Linked DNA regions of Homo sapiens: region 1 is linked to region 2. Evidence: fine-mapped expression QTL. A gene starts in region 2. The other region holds a variant in brackets. All regions are shown on one strand. Distances are from middle to middle.

Region 1 (4,405 bases), 40 kb after region 2:
ATGTGAGGACTGTGGGAAGCGCTACAAGAGGCGCTTGAATCTTGATACGCTTTTGTCATTATTTTTAAATGACACATAACTGTTGTACTCATTTATGGGGTACAGTGTGATAGTTAATGCAAGTATACAATGTGTAATGATCAAATCAGTGTAATTAACATACCTATCACCTCAAACATTTATCATTTATTTATGTTGGGAACCCTTAAAATTCACTGTCCTAGCTATTTGAAAATAATACGTTGTTAATTACTGTCACCCTGTAGTGGTGTAAAACACTAGAACTTATTCCTCCTACCTGCCTGTATTTCTGTATTCATTAACCAACCTTTGGCTACCACCCTGCCTCCTCACCTCTAAGAACTACTATTCTACTCTCTACTTCTATGAAGTTAACTTTTTGAGCTTCCACATATGTGTGAGAACATGTGGTATGTATCTTTCTGTGCCTGGCATATATCACTTAATATAATGCCCTGTAAGTCTCATTCACTTTGCTGTGAGTGATAGAATTTTGTTGTTTTTCATGGCTAAATAGTACTCTGATGTGTATATTTGCCCCATTTTCTTTATTCATTCATCCAGTGGACACTTAGGTTGATTACATACCTTGGCCTATTTCTTGGCTATCGTGAATGGTGCTGCAATAAACATGGGGGGGTGGAGATAACACTTTAACATACTGATTTCCTTTTCTTTGGATATGTACCAAGTATCATATAATAGTATGACATGACTCAAAATTAAGGAATAAGATTGTGGAAATTGGTTTTCAAAAAAAAATTCTCTAGTTTGAATATAGAGAAAAATTGGTGAGTGTCTTCAGCTGTCCTCATACATAATGCATGTGAGCTCGCTTTAAGCATAAGTGAAGGAGTGGAAAAATCCTGGAGATAGAAATCAAGGGGTATACATGTGGATGTAAAAAATCAACAAAGATTCTTTTAAGAAAAGGTGTGTATGGGTAGGGAACAATAGCATGACAGCAGTGCGGCCTCTAACAGTCTGGAACCAGTTAGGACAAAGAGCAGGATTGAGCGCCATTCCATTCATAGACACCGTGGTGATATTTTGAGTACATTAGGTTAAAAGGCTTTCTTCAGCAAAATCTATCTCTAGAGATAGATTTGATTTTTATAATCAAATCTACTAGAGATAGATTTGATTTTTATAATCAAATCTACCAGAGATAGATTTGATTTTTATAATCAAATCTACTAGAGATAGATTTGATTTTTATAATCAAATCTACTAGAGATAGATTTGATTTTTATACTTAATGTTCTAGACTGTATCTTTTCAGGATGCTAGGTACTTTATGAAGATCCATGCTGTCTCAATTTGCATAGTGGGTTGGAGGTCCCTAAGACAATCTCTCCAGATTCTATGATTTGCTAAGAGGACTCAGAATATAGTTGTACTCATGACTATATTATAGTGACAGGATACAAATAATCAGCAAAGGGAAAAGGTTCTTGTATAATATCTGGAGGGAATCAGATGTAAATTTGTAAAGATCCTTTGTGCATGGAGTAACAGGTCTCAATTCCTCCAGTATTGAATTGTGACTGTACTTGTGAAATGTCTACAATGGAAATTAATTATCAACCCGTACCAAAGGTTCTTATTGGAACTAATCATGTAGGTACCATCCCTCTGGTACATATCAAGATTCTAGACTCCAAGAAGGGGAGCAAGTGTTCAGAATAACTTGAACCATGCCTACCAGTTATGGAATGGTGGCAACCCTCTCAAACTCCGTGTTTCCTAACACCAGCTAAAGGCCAGTCTTATAAGCAGTCCTTTCTAAGATTTGCAGTCTCAGGCCTGTTATATTAACTTTTTGTGCACATAGTACTAGAAAACTGTTGGCTCAGTCTTCTTTTTGTTTTGTGTGTTTTGGTTTTTAACTGTCACCGATACCAGAATAGCTCATCTCCAAGGTAACTGTAACAGAACACTCAGCAGATTAAACAGAAAATACTTGCTTATTATAATTATTAAAAGTTTGGTAGGGTCTATGTCTGCTCTCTGGTGTGTCCTGGATCATCAACTTGGTTACAACATGGTGTTAACATGTGGGACTGATTGTGTTTCTTGTTAATATTTCTGTTTCTCCCAACCAC[G/A]CTGAATATTAAATACCTAGTTCTATATCTAGTACCCTGAGCTTATGTGGGGCTAATATTCTTTGCCATTTTTCACCACAGATTTGATTTCCTTTTTCTTTTGTGGACACTGGTGAGTTCCCTAATATAACTTTGACTTGGTTATATTTTCACAATCGGTGGGGATTATTACAGATTATCATCCTTCCTCTGCATTTGAAAAAGGAGGGAGGCTTCAAGTCAGGTTAGTTGACCTTCCTTTGTTGGTCTTATTATCCATAACATAATAAATAAATTGATGAGGATGGGCATGGTGGCTCACGCTTGTAATTCCAGCATTTAGGGAGGCTGAGGCGGCGTTTTAGACCAGCCTAGCCAATGTGGTGAAACCTCATCTCTACTAAAAATACAAAAAATATGCCAGGTGTGGTGGTGTGCGCCTGCAATCCTAGCTACTCAGGAGGCTGAGGCAGGAGAATCGCTTGAGCCTAGGAGGCGGAAGTTTGCAGTGAGCCAGAATCGTGCCACTGTACTCCTGCCTGGGTGATACAGTGAGTCTCCATCTCAAAAAAATAAGTTTATGAGAAGTCTATTAAATTGTTACATAATCTATATAGGTAGAAGGTTTCTATTTCAAGTGAACCAAAGTGTAACTTGAATCGTCTAATGCAGACTCACAGCCCAAAAATAAATTCCAAGACATGTCCACTTTACAAATCCACAATTCCTTTGATGGGGTGGGAGGGCAGTTCTGGATAAGGATGGACCCTGCTAGATTGCAAAAAATTTACAGCACTAATTTTTTCCCCAGAGATCTCCATAAGGACCTATGGTCATGAACTTCTGTGACTGTGTACTCAAAAAGAGAAATAATCACACATTTTGGCAGTGACTGAATTCTTGTTTTCAAGTAGGATAAATCCAAAGAGACTCACACTGAGACACATTATAATCAAAAAGACAAGGAACATCTTGAAAGCAGCAGCATGAAAGTGACTTGTCATGTACAAGAGATCCTCAATAATATCATCAATGGCTCTGGCCAGGTACAGTGGCTCATGCCTATAATCGCAGCACTTTGGGAGGCTGAAGCAGGTGGATCACTTGAGGTCAGGAGTTTGAGACCAGCCTAGCCAACACGGTGAAACCCTGTGTGTACTAAAACTACAAAAATTAGCCAGGCGTGGTGGTGTACACCTATAGTGCCAGCTACTCAGGAGGCTGAGACAGGAGAATCACTTGAACCTGGAAGGCAGAGATTGCAGTGAGCCGAGATCATGCCACTGCACTCCAGCCTGGGTGACAGAGGGAGACTGTCTCAAAAAAGAAAAAAAAAAAAAAAAAAAGATCATCAGTGGATTTCTCAGCAAACCTCCAAGGCCAGATGATGTATTAAAGTGCTGGAAAAAAACCTGGTATATTGAGGATTCTATATTCAGCAAAACTATACTTCCAAAATGAGAGATCAATTAATAACTTTTCAGAAAAACAAAAGCTGAGAGAATTGCCAGTAGACAAGTTATTCAAGAATTGAAAAGGTTGGGAGGCTGAGGCAGGCAGATCATTTGAGGCCAGGAGTTTGAGACCAGCATGGCCAACATGGTGAAACCCTGTCTTTACTAAAAATATAAAAATTAGCCGGGCGTGGTCGTGGGCGCCTGTAATCCCAGCTACACAGGAGGCTGAGGCAGGAGAATTGCTTGAACCTGGGAGGTGGAGGTTGCACTGAGCCGAGATTGTGCCACTGCACTCCAGCCTGGGCAACACAGTGAGACTCCATCTCAAAAAAAAAAATTGATAAAGGGAATCAATCCTTCAAGTTGAAATGAAAGGATTTTAGACAATAACTTGAAATCATATGAAAATATAAAGATCTATACTAAAGGCAATTGCATGAAGCAATACAAACAACATTATGATAGTAATTTTAGTTTGTAATCCCAGTTTTTATTTTCCATACAACGTAAAAGACAAATGCATAAAAATGACTACCAATCTATGTAAATAAGTACACGATATGTAAAGATGTACTATGAGATCAGTAACAGTGCGGGAAGGAAAGAGCTGTGAAGGAGTAGGGTTTTTATATCTGATTGAAGTTAAGTTGGTATCAATTTAAAAGACTGTTATAACTTTAGGATGTTACATATACTTTTGGTGACTATAAAGAAAATATCAATGAAACATGCACAAAAGAAAATAAGAAGTGATTCAAGGCAAGGCAGGGTGGCTCATGCCCGTAATCCCAGCACTTTGGGAGGCCAAGGCGGGTAGATCATGAGGTCAAGAGATTGAGACCA
Region 2 (4,405 bases):
TATATACCCCAAAGAATTGAAAGTAGGTGATGAAACAAATACTTGTACACCACTGTTTGTAGCAACACTATTGACTACAGCCAAAAGGTGGAAAGAACCCAAATGTCCCTCAATCAATGAATGGATAAACAAATTGTGGCGCAAGCCTGTAATCCCAGCACTTTGGGAGGCTGAGGTGGGCGGATCACCTGAGGTAAGGAGTTCGAGACCAGCCTGACTAACCTGGTGAAACCCTGTCTCTACTAAATACAAAAAAATTAGCTGGGTGTGGTGGCGCATGGCTGTAATGCCAGCTACTTGGGAGGCTGAGGCAGAAGAATCGTTTTAACCCAGGAGGCGGGGGTTGCAGTGAGCTGAGATCGTGCCATTGCACTCCAGCCTGGGCATCAAGAGGGAAACCCCACCTCAAAACAAAACAAGACAAAGCAAACAAAAAAAACAAATCGTAGTAGAAACATAAAATATTATGAAGTACTGGTACATGCTGTGATGTGGATGAACTTTAAAAGCAGTATGCTGGCAGGGCGCGGTGGCTCACGCCTGTAATCCCAGCACTTTGGGAGGCCGAGGCGGGAGGATCACGAGGTCAAGAGATCGAGACCATCCTGGCTAACACGGTGAAACCCCGTCTCTACTAAAAATACAGAAAAATTAGCCAGGCGTGGTGGCACGCGCCTGTAGTCCCAGCTACTCGGGAGGCTGAGACAGGAGAATCGCTTGAACCCGGGAGGCGGAGGTTGCAGTGAGCTAAGATCGTGCCACTGCACTCCAGCCTGGCACTTTTTTTGAGATTCCGTCTCAAAAAAAAAAAAAAGAAGCAGGATGCTAAGTGAAAGGTGTCAGAAACAAAAGGTTCCATAATGTATAATTCCATTTATATGAAATGTCCACAATAGGTAATTCAATAGGACAGAGATTAGTGTTAGACAGTGACTGCTTAGTGGGTATGGGGTTTTTGGGGTGATGAAAATGTTTCCTAACTTTTTATTTGTACTACATATATCCTAAAATGGTGAATTTCACGTTTTGTGCATTACACCTCAATAGAGATGTTTTAAATAATAAAATACATTAAAATGTTTTGCATAGATAAAACAATAAAAAAAAACGTTTTTGTTGAGAAAATATTTGCGAGATAAAATGTTAATATCATGAATATAAGAACAGTGCTTGAAAAGTGAGGGATAAAACCAAAAACTCAATAAGAAAGTGGGCAAAACATCTGGACAATTTACAAAAAATGTAATAATGACACCTGAAAATATGCAAGAATATGCCATCTTTACAAGAGTTATAAATTAAAACTACATGCCATTTCTTACCACTGGCAAAACTTATTTGAAGAGTGTATCATCTCGCTTGTTCCCTTTCCAGTAACACTCCTGTCCTCACTAGAGGGGTTTAGACTTCAGGAATTCCTTTCTATACGGTATTTTCTCTTAGGCACCCAGGGAGAGGGAAGGACGACTCTCAGGGTAGAAGTCCACATTTCCCAACAGGCGCTCGGGGGTACGAGATTCGTTCCCCGTGGGAAGAGTGGTCAAGGGCTTCCCAGTAGTCGTCAACACTTCCCTTTGAGTGTAATGCTGCAGGAGTACAGTCCAGACCCTCAGTGGAATCGCGGTCGGTTTAGCTCCGGCAGTTGGGTCCCAGGGAATTCTGGGAAGTGTAGTCCAGACGCTCAGTGGAGTCGCGGTCAGTTTGGCTCCGGCTGGCGGGTCCCGGGGAATTCTGGGAAGTGGAGTCCAAACATTCGGTGGAGTCGCGGACACTTCCGCTCGGGGACTGAGGTTGCTGCAGTTTTTCCGCGATAGTTTGGGGCAGTTCCGCGCGTTGCAGGCCCTTCTGAATTTCCTGGACCTACGCATTGGATCCTCAAAGAACTGGTGATCGAATTAGGGGAAAAGGGGCCTCGTCGGAGAGTAGAGGTTTGGAGGGGCAAGGGCCGCTGTTTGCGTTCTCGTCCGTGGCACCTTCTTGGGCTTGGGTCTGTCCTCGCTTCCCGGGGGCATTGGTACTTGGTTGGGTCGCGTCTCACCTGGTTTCAGGGTTTCCGGGGCTCTGAGCTCGCCCACTCCGCCCCCTGCACCCCACGCGCGTGGCCACTTCTTCTCGATATAACGTTGGGGTGTTAATCTCCTTGGGTTTCCCGTTACTGTTCTTTAAAATGGGGACTTTAGGGCCATCCTAATGGAATCGTTTTGGGAACTGGAAGAGGTAACACAAATGAGAGCCTTAAAGCAGTCCCTGTCACTTGGTGACTGGTGGTCTCTTGTTAATTTCCCACGAAGGACCGGGTGGGGTCAGAGCTCCAGCTGCAGGGGCCTCGGCCCTTCTCCCTGATCCCTGCAGGACGCTGGATGATCCCGGAAGCCTTCTGACCTCTTTTTAGGAGAGCGAGGGTTGCGTCCACTTTCATGAAGGGAAAGGAGCATTTAACTTTTATGGGGGACGGCGACGCGGTCAAGGTGTTTCACAGCTTTCTCGTTCCCCAACCCGACCTTTCCAGAAGAGCTGCAGGGAGGGACTTCTTGGCTTCTGAGGGCAAAGCTCTACGTGAGTGGTCCTTGGCTCTTTGACCGAGATGCTCACCCCAACCGAGAGTGTATAGGTTGTGTCCTCGGGCATGGGGGTCGATAATAATTAAGTCTTAATTAGTAACTTCATTCTAAGGGCTTTATACAAATAAATTTACGCCACACCGTGGCTCTGTGGAGAAGTATTGCTTTTTTCTATTTTAAAAACGAAAGTGAGACACAGAGCGCATAGGCACCCGACTAGTGAGAGGTGGAGCTGGGGTTGGAACCTAAGCAGTCTGGGTCAGAGCCTGATTTGATCTTCTCTTGGGATACGTTGTCACTGAGGCAGAGGAACTAGTTGGACTTAGGTGGGGAAAGCAAGACTTAGGGGCTTGAAATTTTCTGAGTTTCTAAAAATGTTGTCAACTATTTTGTTTCAATCATTACAAATATTTTGTATTCTTATAGAACCATGTCATTGTACAGCATTCTATTTTTCTTTATTAAGAACAAAATGGGCCTGGCGCGGTGGCTTACGCCTGTAATCCCAGCACTTTGGGAGGTCCAGGCGGGCGGATCACGAGGTCAGGAGTTCGAGACCAGCCTGGCCAACATGGTGAAACCGCATCTCTACTAAAAAATAATTACAAAAATTAGCTGGGCGTGGTGGTGGGCGCCTGTAATCCCATCTACTCGGGAGGGTGAGGCAGGAGAATCGTTTGAATCTGGGAGGCGGAGGTTGCAGTGAGCGGAGATCTGCCATTGCACTCCAGTCTGGGCGACAGTGCGAGACTCCGTCTCAAAAAAAAAAAAAAAAGAACAAAATGTTTTTATTACCTACGAATCCATGAAGTAAAGGTAGCAACTGTTAAGCTCGTAATGTGTTTCTTTCTTTTTGTATATTTATAGGTTTATTTATGAACATTTACAAATTTTTATAATTTTTTTCTTAATATTTCCCCCTTATGTGTTTAACTATGGAAATTTCCAAATGCTGACAGACTAAACTAGTGAATTATCATGTTATATCATACTCATTAATCTCATTATTGTTATTATTTTTCCTATGACTGTTTCCTAAAATTATAAAACTTTTTATTTTCATGTCATTTGAAACCTATAGAAAAGTTGCAAAAGTAGCCTAAGAAATTCTTATTTACTCTTTACCCACGTTTGCCAAGTGTTTACATTTTTCCTGTTTGTTTTGTTGATGACCATCAGCTGAATACCACTAGAAACATACCTGTAACCAGAGACAGCTGATTATAGCTTTCTGCAGCAAGGAAGCCCACGTACCAGGGGCTGTCTTGGTAAGTAGAATTTAGGAAGACCTAGTATATGGTTTCACATAACATATTAGATAATTTCAGATTGTATACCAGATAATGTTATTTATTAAATATTAGATATCTATCCAAAGACTGCTAATAGTAGTTTATTGTATTATCTATTATACAGTGCTAGATAACATATTACCTAACTTCATGTTATGTACTCTGCAGTTCTATATTTAAATTTGTTCTATTTTTCACTTAAGGTTCTTACAAGTGTCCCCTACCCATCTGCCACCACCACCTGTGTTCACAGTCTAATTTTATGCATTGCCTTTAATTGTCACATTTCCATAATCTTTAATCTTGAGGATTCTACACCCTTTGTCTTTCTATGCTTGATATTTTTGAAGAGTATAGGCAAGTTATTTTGGAGAAAGGCATTCATTTGGAGTTGTGTCTGATGTAATTCATGTGCGGGTTCACATTATGCATTGTTGGTAGGGATACCACAGAAGTGGTGAATTGCGGGTTCAGATTATGCATTGTTGGTAGGGATACCACAGAAGTGCTGAAATGTCCTTTTCATTGCAACATAACAGGGTCCAAGTGATG

Evidence for each region. PIP is the estimated chance that this variant, and not a neighbour inherited with it, causes the effect.
Region 1: its variant is the best candidate, but not a certain one, in a credible set for the expression of ZNF224 in whole blood (TOPMed, PIP 0.86).

Annotation. Positions count from the first base shown.
Region 1 is chr19:44,132,657-44,137,061 of GRCh38, forward strand. ZNF225 (zinc finger protein 225) reads left to right here. Exons shown (of 5, transcript NM_013362.4): 5 at 1-2,166. The coding sequence ends at 79. Among named protein-coding and RNA genes, the nearest start is that of ZNF234, 6.7 kb to the right of the region's middle. The variant G/A (reference allele first, on the strand shown) is at 2,127.
Region 2 is chr19:44,092,603-44,097,007 of GRCh38, forward strand. ZNF224 (zinc finger protein 224) reads left to right here and starts at 1,759. Exons shown (of 6, transcript NM_001321645.3): 1 at 1,759-1,928; 2 at 3,741-3,829. RefSeq lists an enhancer at 1,569-1,678.